2 linked regions of the Homo sapiens genome follow. The protein of the gene in region 2 interacts with the protein of the main gene of each other region in a pairwise test. Each region holds a gene or a part of one and is shown on either strand. Other genes may lie near its edges.

Region 1 (3,657 bases), on a different chromosome or scaffold from region 2:
TTACAGGAAAAGTTCTGAGAAAGGTTTGTGATTCTGCCTAAGGCATTTGATATTTTTATTAGCCATTAAATAAGCCTCATTCAGAAAAGCTTTTAATCAGCTTTTTTTCCCCTCAAATAAATAGAATTGACTAAGCACTGTTTGCTTTTCAGTTGGCTAATTGGGAATAAATGGTAACAGACCTACCAGGAGGAGTTCCATAGAGAAAACTACTTAAAAACTCCCATTATACAAAGAAAAAAGATCAATACACACAGAGATACCGAAAAATAGACAACCTCGAAAACTATAACTACTTGTTTTCCTCTATTCATTTGCATTTGTCATTGCCAACATGCATTTATATTGATTTATTCCTTCTTTTAGTTAAGTCCATCAAAGTTAGAAAAAAATGAAGATGTGAACACTAATTTAACACACCTATTGAACATACTTTCAGAGCTTGTGGAGAAAATATTCATGGCTTCAGAAATACTTCCACCGTAAGTGGTGAAATTTTCATTTGACAAGAAATTGTGTATCTATGTCTTCAGAAATTTCTATTTCTAAAACGTGAAAGCTTTTCTGTTGTCCTAATATTATTATACTCTGAAAAAGTCATGGTTAATCTTTATGAGATGAATTGTATTTAAAGAAAATAGCTGTCTTAATAAAACCACCCATTATTTTCGTACAAGCCAATATGTCTGGTTTGTACTGTAGTAGCTTGGGGAGTGAATAGAGGTTTATAGTTTCAGATTTGAGATTGTAAAAGATATCTTGTCTATCCATTTAGTCTATACTTGATAGACTAATCACTCTGTTAATATGCTTGTCGGCCTCCAGTATTAGTGAACTCACTTGTTCAGGTAGAAGTTAACTTAAGTCTAAATCTTGCTCCCCAGAATTTGCAGCTGGTTGGTTCTCTATATCTGAAAGTAAATGTCAGGAAGTTGACTGAATAAATTGATGATAAACTTAGTGGATAAAGTTTTCCTTACCCCTTGCTAAATGCCTCATTACCTGTGGCAAAATACTTTTTTGGGTAAAAGGCCAGTTTTATTGAACTGTGGTATATTTGGGTAAATTAAGCTTTTGGCTGCTAGGAGATCAGTGTTTTCACTTGCTTTCTGTGTTGAGATGATTGTGTTATTTTGGCAGGACATTGAGATATATTTATGGGTGTTTACAGAAATCTGTTCAGCATAAGTGGCCTACAAATACCACCATGAGAACAAGAGTTGTTAGGTAAGGCTCATCAATTGATTTGTTAAATCACATACTAATAGGTGGATAATTGTGAAAAATTGAGGAATAACAATATACAATTCAATGCTTTTTTCTTTGGCTTTTATGTCAAAGCCCTGTTGCATATTTTCTAAGTCCAGATGGCTCCTAAACTGAAAGTTACTGTGAGATTTAGCTGCCGTTTGCATTTTCTAAAAACATGAACATTCATTTATAGTCAAGTATTGGGGATTTTTAAACCCTTACAAGATGAGGCTAAAAGTTATATAACAAAATCTGTAGCTAACTTCATATAGTATTCTTCATACATACACACACATTGATTGGCAGTGAGAGAGAAGGGCAGTAATTGACCGATTTAGATATTAATTGGTTTGTTACAATCTGTGACTCTGAGCTAATCAGAACCAGAACATGTAGTTCTGAAGCTGTGTTTCAGTCTGCTCATTGTACCATAATTAGGAAGAACTGCTTTGGCAAATCATGGAATTTGGGAGCTTATATAAAGGGACTTCATTATCATTATTCTATAGGAAGAACTGCTTTGGCAAATCATGGAATTTGGGAGCTTACGTAAGGTTACTTCATTATCATTATTCTAACTTATTTTTCCAATGAAGAAGCAGATCTGTCTGGAGAGGTTAAGTTGAACTAAGGTTTTATAGAAAGCTGGTGGCTAAGGCAGAACTAAAGGTAACTTTCTAAGACCCAATCTGATATCCTTGAGTCTTATTGTAGGCTTTTGCTTTTGTTAAGCATACTCCAACTAATACCCCAACTAATTCCAGGCAAATGGAAGTTTAATGCGAAAGCGTCATGGAATACAGCAGTTTTCTAATAATATAATTTGTTATTTAGAATATACACTGTCATGTCATGCTATATGTAAAATAATTAGGCAACCATTAACACCATTATTACACAGTTTGTTTTGAAAATGTGTTAATCCTGCCTCCAACCTAAATTTTGTCAAGGGGCTTCTATTTCTTTTTTTGGGGGGCAGGTAATATTTCTCTTGGTTATGATATGACATAATATTTAAGAACTACAGATTCTGTTTTTCTTGGCATTAGTGGTGATTGGGAGGAATAGAAAAGAATTACAAGCATAATATTCCAGCACAGTTACGTGTGAGATGTAAATTAAAACTGTTCTATAAATTTGTAAGTTTCAAACAAGTATAACTGTTAAGCAAACACAGCAGGAAATTGTAAACTGTTTCGTGCAAGAGGGTGTTTTAGGGCATTTTTGCCAAGGTTAGGTTTCAGGCTCATAGACCTACTATGTATAATTATCACAATATTTTCAAGTAAAGTTTACAAGATTCTTTAAATTTGGGAAGTCCAAAATTAAAGACTTAATTGTTATTTTTTTGAGACAGGGTCTTGCTCTGTTGCCCATGCTGGAGTGCAGTGGTGTGATTTCGGCTTACTGCAACCCCCGCCTCCCAGGTTCAAGTGAGATTCTTGTGCTTCATCCACCCAAGTAGCTGGATTACAGGCATGCACCACCATACCTGGCTATTTTTGTATTTTTAGTAGAGATGGGGTTAGACCATGTTGGCCAGGCTGGTCTTGAACTCCTGGCCTCAGGTGGTACACCCACCTCGGCCTCCCAAAGTGTTGGATTACAGGCATGAGCCACCATGCCCAGCCAATATATTAGAATTTCTATAAATGCTGTTTGAGAAGTAACATCTTTACTTTCTAAGAGTCCAAAAATTAGCAAACAGGTACATGTTCAAAGGTAAATGCTAAGAAATTGGGTAATCCACTCTAACAGAGAACAGAGATTGTATCTATTAATCTATAGAAGGAATTGCGTAACTCATTATTTTGGGAATAATGCTTGTCTTTACATGGATTATGTCTATCAATCTGTAGAAGGAATTGCATAATTCATTATTTTAGGAATAATGCTTGTCTTTACATGGGGCAAGTAAGAGGTTAATTATTAGTGTGGATTCTTCTTAAAAGGAAATTAGAAATTATCTACATGACAACATATCCTCCCTACCAGTGACTAAAGGAGGCAGAATAGGAGTATCTATGCAAGCTTTTAACACTGACATTGTCCCAAAGTAAAATTAGCAGATAAAATCATATATGACAGCTGTTAGTATAATTTTTGCTTTTGCTATTGTTTTATAATTTGACAACTTTTTAAAACTTTAGAATTCCTAATGTCTTGTCTTAAAAGTTTTTCAGGCTGGGCATGGTGGCTCAAGCCTGTAATCTCAACATGTTTAGACCAAGACAGGAGGATTGCTTGAGGCCAGGAATTTGAAATTGTCCTGGGCACCGTAGCGAGACTCTGCTTTCTACAAAAATAATTAAAAAAAAAAAAAAATTGCCAGGTATGGTGATGTGCACCTGTAGTCCTAACTACTCTAAGCCTGAGGCAAGAGAATTGTTTGATCCCAGGGGTTCA
Region 2 (3,657 bases):
TTCACAACTCACACGCAGAAGAAAATACCATCCAGCTCGGTTGTGTACCACCATTTGACTAAACTGTGTGGGATCTCCTGCCTTCTCCTCTTCCTCTTCCAATTCCTTTCCTCCCTCCAAATCTCTTATTATTCTTCAATATTGCACAAATCGGCCTTCGCTTTCATCTCTACAGCTTTGAAGCACAGTTATTGTTATATTTGGGAAGACAGAAGAGTTGGAAATAAACCTCAGTTTATTTCCTCTATGAGCAATGCAAAAATCCACTGGGATTCCTTAAGCATGATCCCTTTATTATGTAATAGGCATTGAGTTAGTAATTAGGCAAAATAATAGCTGATGTGATCAGGTCAAAAACAATAGATAAAATAATGTAATGGACTAGTTGCAACTATTGGCTTCAACTACATAAGGCTATCAAGTCTAGGCGATATCATTCAAGATGTAGATGCTTACGGAACAACAAACTAAGAGTTGGAGAAACAAAACCTATTACAAAACACATCATTCACTTTTTTGTTTGCCCCTTTTCCCCCTCATTCTATTATGCAATTTGTATACTCACTCGTTTCCGATGAGGACTAATTTCTAGCTTCATCACCGCACATTTGTTTAAAGTATTTAGACGCCTATAGAGCAAAGAAATAACGTTAGCAAAGATAGGCAACCACTCTCTAATGAGTGGATAAACACCTGTTTTTAAACAATTCATATATTTAAGGAGTTTCTTGAAACTCAGTAATACCTAATACCTAGAGGAGTATTAGAAACTTATTTAAAAAGTGAGTCATTTAAAAATACCTTGGCCGGGCGTGGTGGCTCACGCCTGTAATCCCAGCACTTTGGGAGGCCTAGGCGGGTGGATCACGAGGTCAGGAGAGCGAGACCATCCTGGCTAACACGGTGAAACCCCGTCTCTACTAAAAATACAAAAAAACAAGCCGGGCCTGGTGGTGGGCGCCTGTAGTCCCAGCTACTCAGGAGGCTGAGGCAGGAGAATGGCGTGAACCCGGGAGGCGGAGATTGCAGTGAGCCAAGATAGCGCCACTGCACTCCAGCCTGGGCGACAGAGTGAGACTCCTTCTCAAAATAAATAAATAAATAAATAAATAAATAAATAAATAAATAAATAAATACCTTTATGTTTTGTAAGTTTTTCACTTTAATTTTTATATTTTAGTGTGAAATGGCACACAGCTATGATACTGTCAAGTCTCTCTGATTCTTCAACTCTCAATGAGTTGTTCTTACTAAGAAAAATCATTCTTCCAATAACTCTTAGGTTGAGCCATTATGGACTGCCGCACATGGAGCCAAGAAAGAAAAGTTTGTGACTCGGCACGGTGGCTCATGCCTGTAATCCCAGCACTTTGGGAGGCCGAGGCAGGCAGATCACCTGAAGTCAGGAGTTTGAGACCAGCCTGTCCAACATGGCGAAACCCCAACTCTACTAAAAATGCAAAAATTAGCTGGGCATGGTCGTGGGTGCCTGTAATGCCAGCTACTCGGGAGGCTGTGGCAGGAAGAATCGCTTGAACCTGGGAGGTGAAGGTTGTAGTGAGCTGAGATTGTGCCACTGCACTCCAGCCTGGGCAAAAGAGCCAGACTCCATCTCAAAAAAAAAAAAAAAAAAAAGAAAGAAAGAAAAGAAAAGTTTGTGATGTCTCCTTTCATAGAAATAGAAACAGCAAAACAGCAACAAAGAACCAAGTAGAGTTTTTGGCAAAATAAACAGTGTCTTGTATTTGAAATCAAAACTCAAATTTAAAAAATTAGTTTTAGTTATCTCCGATGAATCATAATCTTGGACAGCCTGTCTAAAATTTTAGAGTCCTTGCACAGAATGGAAATTGAAGCCCTCTTTAATATCCAATATTTAGAACAGCTTCCTGTTATAGGACAATATAATGTGTGCTATAGTCACGGCAAATGATCATTTAAAGAATTTGCGTACTGTAACTTCAAGGATCCAAATCTTACCGGGTTCAAAATTAAGCACTCAGGTAAGACTCTTTTTGCAACAGCCATCCTATTGTCATTTTGATACCAATACTTTCACCTCTGCCAAACAGCAATATCAATTTAAAATTAGGGAAATTTAGTTTCGTTGAAAATAAAATACTTACAAAAAAAAAAAAAACCCAAAACCTCATGGAGAAATAATGCAACAGTTGAAAAAAGAAACACTTTAAATATGCTGAACTAAACGGTATGTACAACTATGAATGACAGCCCTTCAAGGCCCCAATTTTCCTGCCATCTCCCAGATGATCATCACTTAGTCTTCCTCAAATGAACCTGTAATGTGTCTGTTTGCCATCTGCTATCACCAGTTTTCTAGTTTTTCCTACGAATTGCAATTCTACATTTTCATAAGATCAGATCATTTAATTCACACAAATTCCTGGGAACCGTGAGACCTCCTCAGGGCTTTATCTTCCTGATCCTGTTCTTGCTGTTTGCCTAACAATGTTGATGCAACAGAATAGAAAGCATTTTTGCCTGCCTGATAAGCCCGATTTTGCCTTCATACCTTAGGTGGTAGCCTGTTTATAGAATAAATAAAGATAGCCCAGAGCGCCTAGGTTCAGAAAAGTTCTCTCTGTTGATGGGGAAGAAAAGAAAACAAATAACTAAGAAAAAGTCTGCACACTTTAAAATGAGTGGATATAAGGTCCCTCTATTGGGGGTATCAATTACTTAAATGACTTACACCCACAGTGTTTTAGTTCTCAAATGCTTTCAAGATTTAAAGAATCCGGAATGGTTACAGTTAGTCTTAGGTCTGGGTTCCATTAATCAAACCTGTAATCAAATAGTCACTTGACTTCATTTGGGCTTTAATGGTTGAATGGTGTTTATAACCAAATTTACTAGCCAGAGGCCTATGGGGCTGGAGAGGGGTTTAGCCTCACAAACTCCAGATTTTAGTCAAACTAAAAAGACCCAGGAGGCCAGTTCTATAAAGGTCAACATTACCTTTTTATGTTGGTAGCACCCAGCTAATGGCATTACAGACCTAAAGCCCAGAGTTATACCCTAGGGTTTCTGTGGTTTTCATTTGTCCTGGAGGACCCCCAAAGAATGTACTCTGCTGGGACCTTATTTCCTTACAGAGACAGTACTGATATCAAATCATAGTTCCAGCTACACAAACGAGGCCTACTGCGGGCCAGGCACTATGCTAGGCACTTCCTATATATGACTTCATCTTCCCAACGACCCTATGGTACAGATATTATGATTAACCTAGATTTTACAGATGAGGAAATGGGGCTCAGGGAGGTCACAGATCTTGTCTAAGTCCACACGATTAAAACATGGTGGCTCTCAAACCCAGTAACTTCTAGGTTCCTTTCTTTTTCTTCTTTTTTTTTTTTTTTGGAGACAGTCTTGCTCTATTGCCCAGGCTGGAGTGCAGTGGCTCACTGCAACCTCCGCCTCCCCGTTTCAAGCAATTCTCATGCCTCAGCCTCCTGAGCAGCTGGGACTACAGGTGCCCGCCACCAGGCCCAGCTAATTTTTTGTATTTTTAGTAGAAGTGGGGGTTTGCCATGTTGCCCGGCTGGTCTCGACCTCCTGAGCTCAGGCAATCCGCTCATCTCGGCCTCCCAAAGTGCTAGGATCACAGGCATGAGCCACTGCACCCGGCAATCT

What was found. Proteins that work in one complex are often made in the same cells at the same time.
Region 1: the proteins of DLC1 (region 2) and RASA1 interact in binary tests that used the Homo sapiens proteins (3 or more experiments, as listed by UniProt).

What each region holds. Positions count from the first base shown.
Region 1 is NC_000005.10:87,379,369-87,383,025, forward strand, and holds part of RASA1 (ras GTPase-activating protein 1), read left to right. Parts: intron 1-366; coding exon 367-482; intron 483-1,140; coding exon 1,141-1,227; intron 1,228-3,657. UniProt on the Homo sapiens protein: Inhibitory regulator of the Ras-cyclic AMP pathway. Stimulates the GTPase of normal but not oncogenic Ras p21; this stimulation may be further increased in the presence of NCK1.
Region 2 is NC_000008.11:13,102,225-13,105,881, forward strand, and holds part of DLC1 (rho GTPase-activating protein 7), read right to left. Parts: intron 630-3,657; coding exon 566-629; intron 1-565. UniProt on the Homo sapiens protein: Functions as a GTPase-activating protein for the small GTPases RHOA, RHOB, RHOC and CDC42, terminating their downstream signaling.